Regions from separate parts of the Homo sapiens genome. Here region 1 is linked to region 2. The links come from fine-mapping of genetic effects on gene expression. A gene starts in region 2. The other region holds a variant in brackets. All regions are shown on one strand. Distances are between the middles of the regions. Region 1 overlaps LCMT1 (leucine carboxyl methyltransferase 1). Region 2 holds the start of LCMT1 (leucine carboxyl methyltransferase 1).

Evidence for each region. PIP is the estimated chance that this variant, and not a neighbour inherited with it, causes the effect.
Region 1: its variant is fine-mapped to the expression of LCMT1 in whole blood (TOPMed, PIP above 0.99).

What each region holds. Positions count from the first base shown.
Region 1 is chr16:25,167,103-25,175,102 of GRCh38, reverse strand. It overlaps LCMT1 (leucine carboxyl methyltransferase 1), which reads right to left. Exons shown (of 11, transcript NM_016309.3): 8 at 5,890-5,991; 9 at 4,298-4,389; 10 at 69-166. Among named protein-coding and RNA genes, the nearest start is that of LCMT1-AS2, 22 kb to the right of the region's middle. The variant A/G (reference allele first, on the strand shown) is at 4,392.
Region 2 is chr16:25,107,772-25,116,155 of GRCh38, reverse strand. LCMT1 (leucine carboxyl methyltransferase 1) reads right to left here and starts at 4,414. Exons shown (of 11, transcript NM_016309.3): 1 at 4,160-4,414. The coding sequence starts at 4,272. LCMT1-AS1 (LCMT1 antisense RNA 1) reads left to right here and starts at 4,601. Exons shown (of 3, transcript NR_120306.1): 1 at 4,601-4,760. RefSeq lists enhancers at 4,107-4,266, 4,357-4,686, 4,464-4,991.

The sequences.
Region 1 (8,000 bases), 59 kb before region 2:
AGGGAAAGAATAGGAAAAAGAAAAGTTCACTATTTCCAGGTCAAGGCAAGAAAAGTACAATCACGCACCAAGCTCATTTCCTCCTTTGGTTGCCCAGCAAAGGCAGTAATGCCGCATGAGCTGCTCCAGCAGCTCCATTTCATCCAGGAATTCAAGTGATTCTATCCTGTGGAAAGAATTAAAATAGAACGATGCAAGTGTCTGCATTGAAAATGAAGATCATGGCCCATAGCTACGGATATGAAAAAATGTTTATGATAGATTAAGTGGAAAGAAGGCGGCTATAAAATAGTAATTATGGTGTGGCTCCATTTTAATGTCTTTTCACTGAAAAGAAGAAAAAATACCATAAACAAAGTCAAAATACAAATGCCAAACTAGAAACATATATTTGCAATTCAAGTGGCAAAGGGCTGAGTTCCTTATTATATAAAGAGCTGTTAAACTTCAGTAAGAAAAACTAGTGGCAACTGGAGGAGACAGGCAGAGTAAATTGAAGCAGATTCATACTGTCAAAACAGGACACTATGCAGCCATTTTTAAAAATGGGGTAGGTCCATACGTATTAATATGCAATAACCTCCAAGACATATATATCATGGAATTTAAAAAGCAAGTTGCGTAATTTAAAAAGCAAGTAATGTGCATATTACACCACTCTCTATGTAAAGAAAAAGTGAGACAAATTTGTCTGTATATGTACAGACTTTTGGAAAATACAGAAGAAACTAGAAATGGTAGTTGTCTCTTAAGAGAGAAGGTAGTAGACCAGTAGTGAGGAGGGTTGTTTTTACTCTATACTACTTCATTTTGGTTTTGTAAAAAATTATATGCATGTATGACTTTTCCCAAAAAGCCTTTTAAATGTAAACTTTTAAACATACATACACAGGTTGGGTGAAGTGCCTCACGCCTGTAATCCCAGCACTTTGGGAGGCCATGGTGGGTGGATCTCCTGAGGTCAGGAGTTCGAGACCAGCCTGGCCAACATGGTGAAACCCCATCTCTATTAAAAATACAAAAATTAGCCTGGCATGGTGGTGCCCACCTGTAGTCACAGCTATTTGGGAGGCTGAGGCAGGAGAATTGCTTGAACCTGGAAGGCGGAGGTTGCAGTAAGCAGAGATCGCGCCACTGTACTCCAGCCTTGGTGACAGAGCGAGACTCGGTCTCAAAAAAATAAAAATAAATAACTATATACACACACAGAGAAACATGCACAAACATATGGAAATAGCGTTTTAAAAAAGTTTCTGTTTGCCAGGAGCAGTGGCTCACGCCTCTAATGCCAGAGCTTTGGGAGGCCAAGGTGGGAGAATCACTTGAGGCCCAGAGTTTGAGACCAGCCTAGGCAACATAGCAAGACTCCATCTCTATCAAAAAAAAACAAAAAAAAAGTTTCTGTCAAAATAGGTACACACTATGGAGGAAAAGTCCGGCATTTTCAAAAAGTATACAGAATAAAATAAAAAAAGAAACAGGATCCATATTCCTACTATTCACAATAGCCACTGCTAACATATGAATCCTGCCAGTTGCCCAGGCCTTGTCTGTTATATGTGTGCACGTACACCCAGGTGTGAACACGTGTGTGTCTGTGCATGTTTCTGTATTTGTGAGTTCATTCCCGTCTTGGTATGCAGGCTTCAGGACCAAATCTGAAGTAAGAATGCCTACACATAAAGTAATGTGGTTGTTTCCCAAGTCATTCTACCAGGAGACATCCAAAGCAGATCTGATACCAAGTTCTAGAAAAATCCAGTACCATACTGAAGGCTCCAGGATGGTTATTACCAAGAACAGCTATCAGGAGACACTACTAATTATTAAGCTGTTCACTAGAATGAGCACTCCCAAGGGCAGGAATGTCTTTTGTCCTGTTTTGATCATTGCTGTATCTCTGGTGCTTAGAAAAGTGCCGGGCACACAGCAGACACTCAACTCAGCATTTGTTCAATGAACAGGCTCGCCTTAGACTTCCTATTATACTCTACAGTTTCCGGCAAAAGCAGATACAAACTACGTGGCATTCACAGAGCTGGAAAGGCTGTTCGACCTGGCATAGACAAAGGCCTTCCAATCTCCTTACCCGCCTCCCCCGTGAGGGTTACACGCTGCTATCTACAGAAGGTCCTGGAAACATGAGACAAATGACTGCCTGGAGGCAAGAGACTTTCCTTGTGGTTGATGCTAGTCAGAGGCTCCTTTCTGGGCATCTAGAAGCAGTGCCAGAGCATCCCCATTTCAGGGGCCAGATCAGGGATGTTCAAAACAGTCGTCTTGACATGTAGCAAATGAAAACCAGCCTGTGGGGAAGGATGCTTCTGGAAGAATCCAGGAAGCATTGACCTGATCACGTGGAGACAGCACTTTCTCAAACCCTCTAGGCTTTCATTGCCAATTATTCATGTACATATTTGGGAAAAACAGTGATATGCCTAAATGTTAATAAGTTATATGGAAAAGCAAAGCCAAAATTCTTCTCATGATCTTGTAAGAGACCAAAGGCTATTGATCTTAGGTCTCCAAAGGCAAGAAGGAAGCATGAATCAGGAAGCACAGAGTGATTACAAAAAAAAGAGCTGAAGTGCGCACTAGCGCTGTACACAGATGCACGTTGGTGATGTTCTCTCCAGTGTTGTTTATAACAGGCAAATGAAAACATGATGAATAAACAAGACACCGCAACTAAATGCCCAGCTACAGACATTTTTAATTACTTAAAAATTATCATCAATATACTGTATCTGCGTAAATCAATATAAATACTATGTACCCTATTTTTTTTTTTTTTGAGACAGAGTTTCGCTCTTGTTGCCCAGGCCAGAGTACAAATGGTGCTACCTCGGCTCACTGCAACCTCCGCCTCCCAGGTTCAAGCAATTCTTCTGCCTCAGCCTCCCAAGTAACTGGGATTACAGGCGCCCGCCACCATGCCCAGCTAATTTTTTGTATTTTTAGTAGAGACAGGGTTTCACCATGTTGGCCAGGCTGGTATCGAACTCCTAACCTCAGGTGATCCACCTGCCTTGGGCTCCCAAAGTGCTGGGATTACAGGTGTGAGCCACCGCACCTGGCCCTATGTACCCTTAAATGGGATATGGCAACCCTCAATATTTTGATATGTAAAGGCAAATACAATCTATTGTTTTCAAAAAGGATGGTGGTTTACAGACCAGTATGTGTAGTATGAATCCACAGATTCAAAAAATAGAAATCTATGTATCAATAAATATTTATCTATCTATGTAGGAAAAGAATATTCCCCAATATGTTAAGAACTGCTACCTCCCAGGTGTGACTACAGAATGGACAACTACTTTATACTTCATGCACTTTAGAATGCTTGAGGAACTTTTTAGAACAAGAAGCATAGATTTCCTTTATAATGGGGAGAAAAGTCCATTTAAAAACCCGCCAGCCCCTTATACGTCCTTGAACAACGTCGTTTTCCTCCCTCTCCAAAGCAGGGATTATGTAAAATTTCCACTGCCAAGGTTGCTCTGGGAGTTTTCCAGGTGTCATTGCTTGTTTTCACTAAAATAATCAGTTTGGGCATAAGCCCTATCTCAGCTAATAGCTAATGAGTTACTTTCAAGCTGCTATCAGTGTTTAACTTGTTTCAAAATAGGTCTAGTTAGGGTCTTGTTTTTTGGGGTTTTTTTTTGTTTGTTTGTTTGTTTGTTTTTTTGAGAAGCAGTCTTGCTCTGTCGCACAGGCTGGATACAATTGCACATCTCAGCTCACTGCAACCTCCGCCTCTTGGATTCAAGTAATTCTCCTGCTTCAGCCTCCCTAGTAGCTGGGATTACAGATGTGTGCCACCACACCCGGCTAATTTTTGTATTTTTATTTATTTTTGGAGACAAGAGTTTTGCTCTTTTGCCCAGGCTGGAGTGAAGCGGCACGATCTCAGCTCACTGCAACCTCTGCCCCCGCCCCAGGTTTAAGTGATTCTCCCGGCTCAGCCTCCCAAGTAGTTGGCATTATAAATGTGCACCACCCTACCTGGCTAATTTTTGCATTTTTAGTAGAGACAAGGTTTCACCATGTTGGCCAGGCCGGTCTCGAACTCCTGACCTGACCTCAAGTGATCTGCCCGCCTATGCCTCCCAAAGTGCTGGGATTACAGGTGTGAGCCACCGTGCCTGGCCTTGTTTTTTATTTGTTTGTTTGTTTTTTGTTTTTTAATGAAATCTCCACATATTGTTCTGTTTTTCTGCATGAAAGAATACAGGCAATCATGCCTTGAGTTCACAATGAATGCCCATCAAGCTGACGCTCACCAACCCCATACCTGCTCACTTCAGCTCGAGGTAACCTGTTGTACAACTCCATCATGTCGACGGCCGATGCTGTTTCCCACCCATTCGACAGGAGCCGTTCTTTCT[A/G]AAATGTGCAACGAAGAGAAATGGAGAACTAGAGAACTACCAGGCACCGGCTTACAAATCTAAGACACTGTTTTGTTTTAAAGAGACAAGGTCTCATTCTGTTGCCCAGGCTGAAGTGCAGTGGTGTGATCACAGCTCACTGCAGCCTTGACCCACCGGGCTCAAGCGATCCTCCCCGCTCTGCCACCCAAGGTGCTGGGATGAGAGGTGTGAGCCAGTGTGCTTGGTACTGAAATGCTCTTAAGCACACCAGACCTCCTCTGAGACGACTCCTTTCTCAAAAGCCCATCCTAGACCCTAACACCTTTTTTTAACTTTCCAACTTTCCATATTGAACAAGCATTGTTATAATGGGGGGAAGTTCACTAAAGTACTTCCAAAGAGAAATAAAGGAAGAACTTTTCTATGAGTGACAGTTTTTTAAAGCACTCTAATTGTTATGTGACAAAAGATATGTAAAAATGAACCTATTTATTTATTTAATTTTTTTTTGAGACGGAGGCTCACTCTGTTGCCCAGGCTGGAGTACAGTAGTTTGATTTTGGCTCACTGCAACCTCCATCTCCCAGGTTCAAGCAAATCTCCTGCCTCAGTCTCCCAAGTAGCTGGGATTACAGGTGTGCACCACCACACCCGGCTAATTTTTGTATTTTTAGTAGAGATGGGGTTTCACCATGTTGGCCAGGCTAGTGTCGAACTCCTGAACTCAGGTGATCCGCCCGCCTCAGCATCCCAAAGTGCTGGGATTATAGGTGTGAGCCACCGCGCCCGCCCAAAAAAATGAACCTACTTATATGGGGGCGGGGTGGGAGGTGTTATGAGAAAAAATAGATGACTTTTTTAAAGGGAGGGGGCATTAACATAGAGTCAAAGAGGTTTAAGGGACATATCAATCATCTGCAAAGTGTGGACAATGTTTAAATCCTGATTCAAACACATCAACTATAAAAAAAAGGTTTTTTAAACAACTGGGGAAACTGAACATGAACTGGGCATTAAATGCTATGAAGGAGTTGTCAACTTGTATGATCTGTGAAATGGTATTATCATCATCCTGGGAGAAGAAAGTCCTTATTGGAAGGTGATTCACATGTGTATTTAGGGGTGAAATCATGTGCTGTCTGGGATTTGCCTGAAAATATTCCAACATCTACAAAAAAATTGTGGGGGAATATAGGAAATAACACTGATAATATAAGAAATACTGAAGTTAGGTGATGAGACGTGTGTGTTTATTTCACCATTCCCTCTACCTTTATGTTTGTTTGAAAATTTGCGTAATACAAAGTCAAAATAATAGGGTGTAGGAAATGTGATGGTGAAGCAGGACTTGGTCTTCCCAGCATCATGAACTAGCGGCCCACATGGAGGCTCAGCAGCCTGTGCTGCTGACAGGCACTGAACAGGGCTTCTCCATGATCACATCTGCAAAGAAAGACCTTTATATATCTTGGTTGACTAAGGGTCCAAATGGATATCCCAGTCCCTGCTCTCTGACCTGTGACTCTAATGACTTGCAGGTCTCCACTCCCGCCAGGTCACACTGGCGTCTCCGCAGGTTTTCAATCATGATCTGCCCAAACCGATCACCCATGTTCACCTAGGAGGGAAAGAGAAGGTAAGATATTACTCTAAGGGTTTCCTAAATATGCAAAATAAAACATCATTCATCCTATTTTTAAGCAGCCGAGGCTGACGCTTGATGACGCACACCCAGCATAGGAAACGGACTGAGGGGCGGGCACCAGCACGGTGCTGGCGGGAGCATAAACTTGGGTAGCCCTGGAAGGGAAACTGGGCAGGATACAACCATTTTAAATGCTCAACTTGTGATCCACCAATTCCACCAAAAGCAATCTATCCTACAGACACACTCCCACATGTATGCTAAGATGCAAGAATGTTTATCACAGCATTAGGTATAATAGGAAGAATCTGGAAATAACTCCTGGCATGTTTGTATAATGAAATTATATATAGCCATGAAAACAGAGAAGACAGATATAGACATGAAATGACCTCTAGGGTAAACTCTTGAAAAGTGAAGTACAGAGGAATATGGATAGTATGAGCCCATCTGTCTTCAAGGAAAAAAAGAATCTCTCTATGTACATAGAAAAATTCTGGAATGTGGCAGCCTTGCTTCCCAGATTAGAGGACCAAAGTCTGGGGCAGGAGAGAGATTTACTTTTCCTTGTCTACCCTGTTCTATTTTTAATTTTTGTACTCTACATATGGTATTACTTTTTAAATTACAAAAACTAATCTAAAAAACCCAAAATTATATATGAAAAAGGCCAGGAAACAATATTAGTGTACACCATTGTAGTATATACACTATTGCTTTTTCAAAAACTCACTTTAGGCCAGGCATGGTGGCCATGTCTGTAATCTCAGCACTTTGGGAGGCTGAGGCAGGTGGATCACTTGAGGCCAGGAATTCAATACCAGCCTGGCCAACATGGTGAAACTCCATCCCCACTAAAAATACAAAAATCAGCCAGGCGCAGTGGCACGTGCCTGTTATCCCAGCTACTCAGGAGGCTGAGGCGGGAGAATCACTTGAACCCAGGAGGCAGAGGCTGCAGTGAGCTGAGATTGCGCAACTGCACTCCAGCCTGGATGACAGAGCGAGACTCTGTCTCAAAAAAAAAAGGCTGGGTGCGGTAGCTCACGCCTATAATCCCAGCACTTTGGGAGGCCGAGGTGGGCGGATCACTTGAGGTCAGGAGTTTGAGACCAGCCTGGCCAACATGAAACCCTGTCTCTATTAAAAATACAAAATTAGCTAGGAATAGTGGCACACGCCTGTAATCCCAGTTACTCAGGAGGCTGAGGCAGGAGAATCTCTTGAACCTGGGAGGTGGAGGTTGCAATGAGCCAAGATCGTGCCACTGCACTCCAGCCTGGGTGACAGAGTAAGACTCCATCTCAAAACATAAATAAATAAATAAATAAGTTAATATATGTAAAATTCATAGAATAGTCCCTGCTATATAGTAAGCAAAATCTAAGAATTTGCTACCACTGCTTTAGAATTATTATTGAAATTATTATCATCCATGTAGTTTTGTCATCTTAAACTACTAATTAGGCAACAAGCTGAGCATGGTGGCTGATGCCTGCAGTCCCAGGGCTTTGGGAGACTGGGGTTGGAGAACTGCTTGAGGCCAGGAGTTTGAGACCAGCCTGGACAACATAGCAAGACCCTGTCTCTACCAAAAAAATAAAGTCAAGAGTGGTGGTGTGCACCTACAGTCCTAACTAATGGGAGACTAAGGTGGGAGGATCACTTGAACCTGGGAGCTCAAGACTGCAGTGAGCTATGACGGCACCACTGTACTCCAGCCTGGGCGACAGAACGAGACCCTGTCTCTAAAAAAAAAAAAGACCAAAAAAAAGGAAAAGCAAACAATGTAAAGCATGTGAGCAATTAATACATGGTTTGTGAGGGTGCTGGTCATTTTGCGTTTGTTAGGAAACCACTGAATTAACTTAAATGTTCATTATTCACCAGGTGAGGGTGGTGGGTGGGAGCAGAACCAGTCTAGGGACAGCTATGGACAACGTTTTGAAAACTGGCACATTCCCAGGCTTGCTCCAAAGTGA
Region 2 (8,384 bases):
CTAAAGGTCTAACACTCTCTTACTGATGTGCCCCACAGCTCCTCATAGTGTGAGTCTTCCCTCCTTGCAACAAGTAATAAACCCAGCTTGTTTAACTACAGGTGTGTTTCTGGTGGTCTTTATTGGAGGAATTCACAACTGTAAAAGTGAAAAAGGATGATTACATTTCTTGGGGGAAGGCTGGGCGTGGTGGCTCATGCCTGTAATCCCAGCACTTTGAGGGGCTGAGGCAGGTGGATCACCTGAGGTCAGGCATTCGAGACCAGCCTGACCAACATGGTGAAACCCCTTCTCTACTAAAAATACAAAAATTAGCCGGGTGTGGTGGCAGGCACCTGTAGTCCCAGCTACTCGGGAGGCTGAAGTGGGAGAATTGCTTGAACCCGGGAGGGAGAGGTTGCAGTGAACCAACATCGCGCCACTGCACTCCAGCCTGGGCAACAACAGCCAAACTCCCTCTCAAAACAAAACAAACAAAGTTTCTGGGGGAGGTTAAGGGAGTTTCATTCTAAGGGTTCCCATTTTCCATGTTGAGCAATAGCTGATATTATCTTGAGAATGAAAAAGGAGTGGGGTAAATCAGAAGTCTGAAGAAAGGGGAAAATGTCTGAATTAAGTATCCGGAGAAAGGGAGAGTGAGTTGATCTGAGAAACAAACTAGGATAGTCAGGTTCTGTTAAGGGCACAGTTGAGGTTGGCTGACATGATCGTAGCGGCACCAAGCCACCCTACTGTGTGATTTCTAGCACCTGTATTCAAGGCAAAAATGGATAGTTTGGTTAAACCAGCATTTTGGGTCTACTAAGACCAAAGGGCAAGGAAGATAAATGCACTGTCAACAGAATTACCGAGGGATGAAGGATGAACTCTAAGTAATCAATTAAGAGGTAACAGCAGAGGGAACATCTAAAAGACAGAGAGAACCACTGAGGTGCTAAGAAGAAATGGGCACAGCATGGGAAATAGAAAATAACTGGTCAAGCAACTTGGAAAAAAGGGGTCAGAGCTGGAGAGTGTTGCACTCTCATCTGTGAGGCAGTGCAGCATCAGGATAAAAGCACAGGGTGTCACGGTGGGAATGGGTGACAGAATCAGATAGGAAGAGGTGATCACTGCAGACCAGGTGTTCAAGAAAGTGAGTGCCTCGTGCATAGGCTCCATGTGGATGCTGAGGTCACCTAAGGTGAAGTCATGAACTGAGGTAGAGGACACTCTGGGCCAGGCACCCCAGTCTTCCATGAATGAGGTGAATGATCAGGAGAGCTGAACAACAGCAATCAGGAGGGCTCCAGTTGGGCAGGAAGGCTCTCCATGGAATGAGACGCGGGAGACACACAGGAGGACACAAAGCTCAAATCCCTGATCCTGAGATACACAGGGCATGAGAAGGAGGAGGAGCCACGGGAGAGGGCTTCAAGAACAGGATATCCCTGAGGAAAGGTCAGGGTGAAGGCAAAGGGAGGGAGGGAATGGCTAAGGAGAGGCTAACAAAATAGAAGCTGATGTTGATTATCAGGTGGTAACTGCAGAGGACATAGTGAGGGGTTGGTGGGATGGTTGGGTCACAGGTAAACAAAAGAGGGGAGAACAGACTCAGTGGCATAGCATGATGGACATCATAAGGAGAGCAGAGAAGGGAAGGAGAGTGGGCTACCATGAAAAGTGCTCAATTGATACCTATTGAGTCAAATGGAGTTAGTGTAAACCTAATATATCCAACCAGAAAACTTCTGATACCACAAGTCCAGGATCACAATGATGATAATGATTTGATGACAATGAGGGGGGTGGTGATGACTGTTAACTACCAATTCTGAACACCTCCAGTATGCCAAGCACTGCTGCAAGCACTCCACATTTCACCTGCACAGCAATCCTCTGAGACAGATAACATCCTACTTATCCGCAGAAGGACTCTATACCAAAGGAAGAAGCAAACTAAACAGAAGTAAAAGATTTACAGGTACCCAGAAGGCTGACTGGCTTTTTATTTTATAGCCATAACTCACTCAGGGCAGCAGGAACCACCCTAACTCATAGCTACTGCACATTCAGCAACTTTAACTAAACAATATTCAGCCTGGAGGGAAGTCAAAACTAGCAATAATAATTTACTGAGGGCTTCACTTTGTGTCAGATCCTCTGCATCGATAATCTCATTTAATCCTGACACCCATAAAGGTTACCTTTATTATCACTGTTTTAAAAATGAAAAGACTAGGCTGGGTGGGGTGGCTCATGCCTGTAATCCCAGCACTTTGGGAGACCAAGGCGAGCGGATCACTTGAGTTCAGGAGTTCGAAACTAGCCTGGCCAACGTGGTGAAGCCCTGTCTCCACTAAAAATGCAAAAATTAGCTGGGCATGGTGGTGTGTGCCTGTGATCCCAGCTACTTGGAAGGTTGAGGCAGGAGAATCACTTGAACCCGGCAGGTGGAAGTTACCAGGAGCCAAGACAGCTGTGGCCAATAGCAACTGAAAGCCACAGAAGAAAAAGCTGAGTATAATCCACTCAAATTCACAAATTTCATAAGGGACTCTCTCTAAGACTTTAATACTTGTGTATTTATTAATTTAATCAATCACCACTTACATGGACTACATGCCAGACACTGCTCCAAGTGCTCTACTAATATTAAATATCATTTTTGTCCACACCCACCTATGATGCGTTATTATACTCCCCATTTTACAGATCAGGAAACTGAGCCACAGAAAAGTTTAGTAATTTCCCCGACTTTATACTGCCAGTAAGTGGCAACGCTCAGTTTGACAGAGTCTAGCTCCAGAATCCATGCTCTGAAAGTTTAGTCCCCAAGAACCTATAAAAAGTGCAAGGTTTAATCCAACACACTGGTTTTCCCCACTCTACAATCACTACGTGGCCTCAGCCTCCTTCTCCCACCTTTAAAGCATTTTTTGAGTTCCTCTAACAGTTCACACTCCTCTGAACACTCTCCTACAACTTTCCTATTTTTCAAGCCTTTTCTTCTCACTTTTTTTTTTTTTTTTTTTTGAGACATAGTCTCGCACTCTCATCCAGGTTGGAGTGCAATAGCGTGATCTTGGCTCACTGCAACCTCTGCCTCCCGGGTTCAAATGATTCTCCGGCCTCAGCCTCCCGAGTAGCTGGGATTACAGGCGCCCGCCACCACACCCAGCTAATATTTGTATTTTTAGTAGAGATGGGGTTTCACCATGTTGGCCAGGATGGTCTCGAACTCCTGACCTCGTGATCTGCCCACCTCGGCCTCCCAAAGTGCTGGGATTACAGGCGTGAACCACCGCGCCCAAACTCTTCTCACCTTAAACATCACTGACAAAATTACAAACTCTAATGGCACTGCCGTATTTGTCAGCACTCAACACAAAAAAATCATAATTATATATTTCATAGGTAATTATTTGCTTCCTGTCTCTCTTTTCCAACAAAGCTGTGAGTTCCAGTATGTCTGACACCATGTCTGTCTTGTTCTTGGTGTATTTCCACCATCGAATTCCTACTAACCACTGCAAAGTAAAGGCCTGGCACAAAGTAAGGTCTCAAAAAATTTTGTTGAATGAAAGAATAAATGGTGGACATTCAAGCCTCAAGCTTTCTCTTTCTCTGACACGTACCTCTGCTGGCTACGCCCCCATCCCCACCACCACACCCTTAACAGTGGAGACTTAGTGCGGTACTGGCTCTGCAAAGAGATATTACTTGGCTCTGGGTGGGTTATTTCCCCTCGTCATCCTGAGTTTCAGGTGCACAACAGGGATCACACCAACCCCCTAAAGAATGCAACCTACAAAAGAGAGAGAACCTACACCTCTCATCCTCGTAACCCATCGAGGCTGGAGCTACTATTTGCTTCATGTCTGTCTTTCCAGCAGCGTTTAGCTCCAAGAAGCCCAAGGCCTCGTCTGTCTGGCTCAGGGGCCTGCTCCCATCGACGATACCCAGGCTGGCCCCCTGCCTGGCTCACAGCAAAAGCTCAGAAACGATTCGTTAAATAAATGAAGCCCTGCTCCGTGCACTTCACAGGTGGGAAGCGAGGGTCGTGCGAGGCGGGGGCTGCATCCCTGCCAGCCTTGAGCGTATTCTTCAGATGCAGGCCCACCTCCCACCTAGGCCCGCGCCCCAGATGCCGGCCCCGAACCCCGCGCCCGACAGGCACCTCTTGCACAGGGAAGCATCTTCGCAGGTGCCGCGCACGCCCTCGTCGTCTGCGTCGCAGCTCGAGGTGGAACAGCAGGAGGTGATAGAGGATTCCCTCTGCCTAGTGGCCATGGGCGTGGAGGTTCCTGGGAGCTGTGTCCGCCAGGGACATGGAAGCGGGGTCGACGGGCGGCGGGGGACGGCGCGAGCCACAGGGAGAAAGCAACAGAAGAGGGTAGGGCCCTACCTGGCTCAGCTGGCGCGGCTCAGTGACGCCGCCCACGCCGGCTACCCCAGCAACCTCTCCGCTTATTGGCTCCTCTTCCGAGTCGCTCATTGAGCAATTCTCCTGCCCGCTCAGCCTACGAAGTTGCTCATTGGATAATTATTTTGGCACCGCCCACATAACCCGGAAATTTGACGATAGGAAAAAGAAACTAAACAGTAGGAGAGTATCGCAATCCTTTCTGGGAAGCGTAGTCTTAGGTGTCTGGAGAAGTCGCCCGGTTTCTGCTTGCTGGTCGCGAAATTTTATAGCTATAATTAACTCAGGGCGGAACAGCTAGCAGAATCCTCAGCGTTCGGGCAAAGGGCAGAGAATCCAGCCAGAAGCAACATGTGTAAGTTGTTACATTCAGTCCGGGCTCAGTGTCATTCAATTTTACAAAATTTTGTTGTGTGCTGACTCTGCCAGCGACTGTGCTGAGGGCTTTGCCCCCAAAATTGCCTTCGAAATGTAGTGAGGGGGGCGGGCGTAGTGGCTCACTCCTGTAATCCCACCACTGTGGGAAGCCGAGGCGGGCCGATCACCTGAGGTCAGGAGTTCGAGACCAGCCTGGCCAACATGGTGAAACACCGTTGTTACTAAAAGTACAAAAATTAGCCGGGCGTGGTGGCGGCCGCCTTAGTCCTGGCTACTCAGGAGGCTGAGGCAGGAGAATCGCTTGAACCCGGGAGGCGGAGGTTGCAGTAAGCCCATGTGGCGCCACTGCATTCCGTCCTGAGCGACAGAGCGAGACTCCGTCTCAAAAAAATAAATAAACAAATAAATAAAAGAAAGAAAGAAAAGAAATGTAGTGAGGGAAGTAGTGTGTGGAAAAGTAATACAATAGGAAGCCATGTAGCAGCGATCATAAATGAACTAGAGCTACCAGGTAGCAGCATCAATGGCTGAATCTCAGAAACACGATGTTCAGTGAAAGAAGGAAGTCTAACAACACTTTTGTAAAGTTCAAACCAAGTAAAACTAATGTTGTTTAGAGAAACGTACATATATGGTAAAATACTGTACAGAGAAGGCAAGACATGAGAAAAAAAAATAAAAAAGAATCAGGATATTGGTGATCTTTAGGGAGCCGGGAGGGTAGCACACAAGAGGGGGAGGGAGAGGCAGGGAAGGAGCACATAGACACATCCTCAGTTTCTCACGTGGGAGTGGGTTCACGTGTGTCTGTTTCATTATGAGGCATATTCAAGATGTTTTGGATTTATTTTGTACTAAATCTAGTACAAAATATATGTATAAATTCAAGATGTACTGGGGAAGTCGCCTGGTTTCTTGCTGGTGATGAAATTTTATAGCTATAATTAACTCAGGGCAGAACAACTAGCAGAATCCTCAGTGTTCGGGCGATTGGCAGAGAATCCAGCCAGAAGCAACCCTTGTAAGTTGTATATGTATAATAATGTTTAATATACATTATAAATTAAAAATGTCTTTGTATATTCCATTTTGTTATCTGTCAGTTGTTGGAAGCAGGAAACAGATATACTTTAAGAACTTTGAATTGCACTCATTTTTTTAAAAAGAAAATCAACAACAGAAACCCAGAATACACACCTTGGAGTGAGGTCAAATATCAAATGCTAGCTCAGTATTCTAATGGAGGCACAAGATCTCATTGATAGCCACAGTAGAAATGACAAGAGGGGAATGACTAAGGGTGGAGAGCTTTGCCAGGGGGAATGCTGATGGGATGAAATACACCATTTTCTTGGAGTGGTCCTTTGCCAAAAGGGTAATACAAACTATTGCACAAGCATCATCTCCCAGCTTAGCAGTGTCCACATTCCACGGGTGTTAGTGGATAGTAAGTGTTAACAGCAAGTACTATACGGTGTTAATCCCACAGGTCTGGACAGTGAGACTGGGGGTGACTGGAAGAAGGCGGAGGCAGATGGGTTTATACACTTTTGTTGTTGGATGAGCCTTTGATTCAAAATAGCTGGTGATTCAGAGGAATTTGGCCATCTTCCAGCTGACCTCCAGGGCCAGCTCATTCCATGTAAGTTCCTGGTTGAGGATCTGAAAGTTTATGACAGCGTGGAGTCTGGAGATTGCAAGCTTAGCCATCTCAGGCTAAATGATACCTTAATGCAAGAGACAATGCTGGGGTAGTCTTTGAGCCATATCCCAGCCAGAGAAAGTTCACTGCCAACTAGACTGCATCTTTTGACAAAGTCAGGAGAAGAGTTGTGGAAGTGTAAAAGCTCTTGGACATTAATATTGTGGGCCAAAAGTTAGGCATTCACCATGGAATCTCTCCCCAAAAGGCTACAATGGACAATTGTTGCTTTGGCTCTCCAGTATCTCTTTCTTCTATAAAAAATAGCTAGAGTGGGCTGGGCGCGGTGGCTCACACCTGTAATCCCAGCACTTTGGGAGTCCGAGGTGGGTGGATCACCTGAGGTCAAGAGTTTGAGATCAGCCTGGCCAACATGGTGAAACCTCGTCTCTACTAAAAATACAAAAATTAGCCAGGCATGGTGGCAGGCGCCTATAATCTCAGCTACTAGGGAGGTTGAGGCAGGAGAATCACTTGAACCCGGGAGGTGGAGGTTGCAGTGAGCTGAGATCGTGCCATTGAACTCCAGCTTAGGGGACAAGAGCAAAACTCCGTCTCAAAAAACAAACAAAAAGCTGGCATGGTGGCTCATGCCTGTAATCCCAGTACTTTGGGAGGCCGGGGCAAGTGGATCACCTGAGGTCAGAAGTTCGAGACCAGCCTGACCAACATGGTGAAACCCCATCTCTACTAAAAATAAAAATTAGCCAGGCATGATGGCGCATGCCTGTAATCCCAGCTACTCCGGAGGCTGAGGCAGGAGAATTGCCTGAACCCTGAAGGCAGGGGTTGTGGTGAGCCGAGATTGCGCTATTGTACTCCAGCCTGGGCAACAAGAGCGAAACTGTCTCCAAAAAAAAAAAAAAAAAGCTACAGCTTCTTATGGAAAACTAAGCTTCTCTCCTGGCCAGGCGTGGTGGCTCACACCTGTAATCCCAGTCACCGAGGCGGGATTTGGGAGGCCGAGGCGGGTGGATCATGAGGTCAGGAGTTCAAGACCAGCCTGGCCAACATGGTGAAACTCCATCTCTACTAAAAACACAAAAAATGGCTGGGCATGGTGGTGCGCGCCTGTAGTCCCAGCTACTCAGGAGGCTGAGGCAGAAGAATCGCTTAAACCCAGGAGGCAGAGGTTGCAGTGAGCCGAGATCGTGCCACTGCACTCCAACCTAGGCAACAAGAGCGAAAGTCTGTCTCGAAAAAAAGAAAAAGAAAAAGAAAAAAAAGCAAGGCTCCTTGCCTGACTCTAGGGGTGGAAACTTGCCAAGGTCTGGCCAATTGGCACCCAAAATCACCTTGTCATGCTTCAGAGGGTGGTGGGGATTGGGGGAAGGGCTAACCAGGTTGTTCCAATCAGAATGAATCCCAGGAGTTGAATGGAAGTTGCTCAGTTTATTAGCAGAGCTCTCTTTTTTGCCACACTTGAACTTGGTAGGTGCCATCAGGTGTGGCCTGTGTGTCCGCCACGTGGTCTCTGAGGCTCCCACCTGGGGGCAGCAGCAACACAACATCCTAACCAGTGGGTGCTTGAGTTCTACTCACTGATGTTCAGATTAGAACTCTTTGGTCACTGCGTCTAGCCTTGTGACCATCACTAGCTGCTTGGGACAGCCATAGAGACACTGTTAGGAAAGTGTGCCCCCAGCACAGTCATGGGAACAATCCTTTATGTTGTTTGTGGCAAGGAAGGAGACCATCACCCATCACCCCAGGAAGATTTAGGAATGGCTCCCTGCCTGTGTCCTAACAGTAATTGTTCTAGCAAGGGTAGTGATGTTTCCTGTGGCACTGTTGCGCTGCTGCTGCTCTCTGTTCTTCTGACCCCTAAGAAATGCACATCCCTGGCAGTCAGTGGCCTAGTCACTGATGATGAAAAAAATAAAATGGACAGGGAATGGC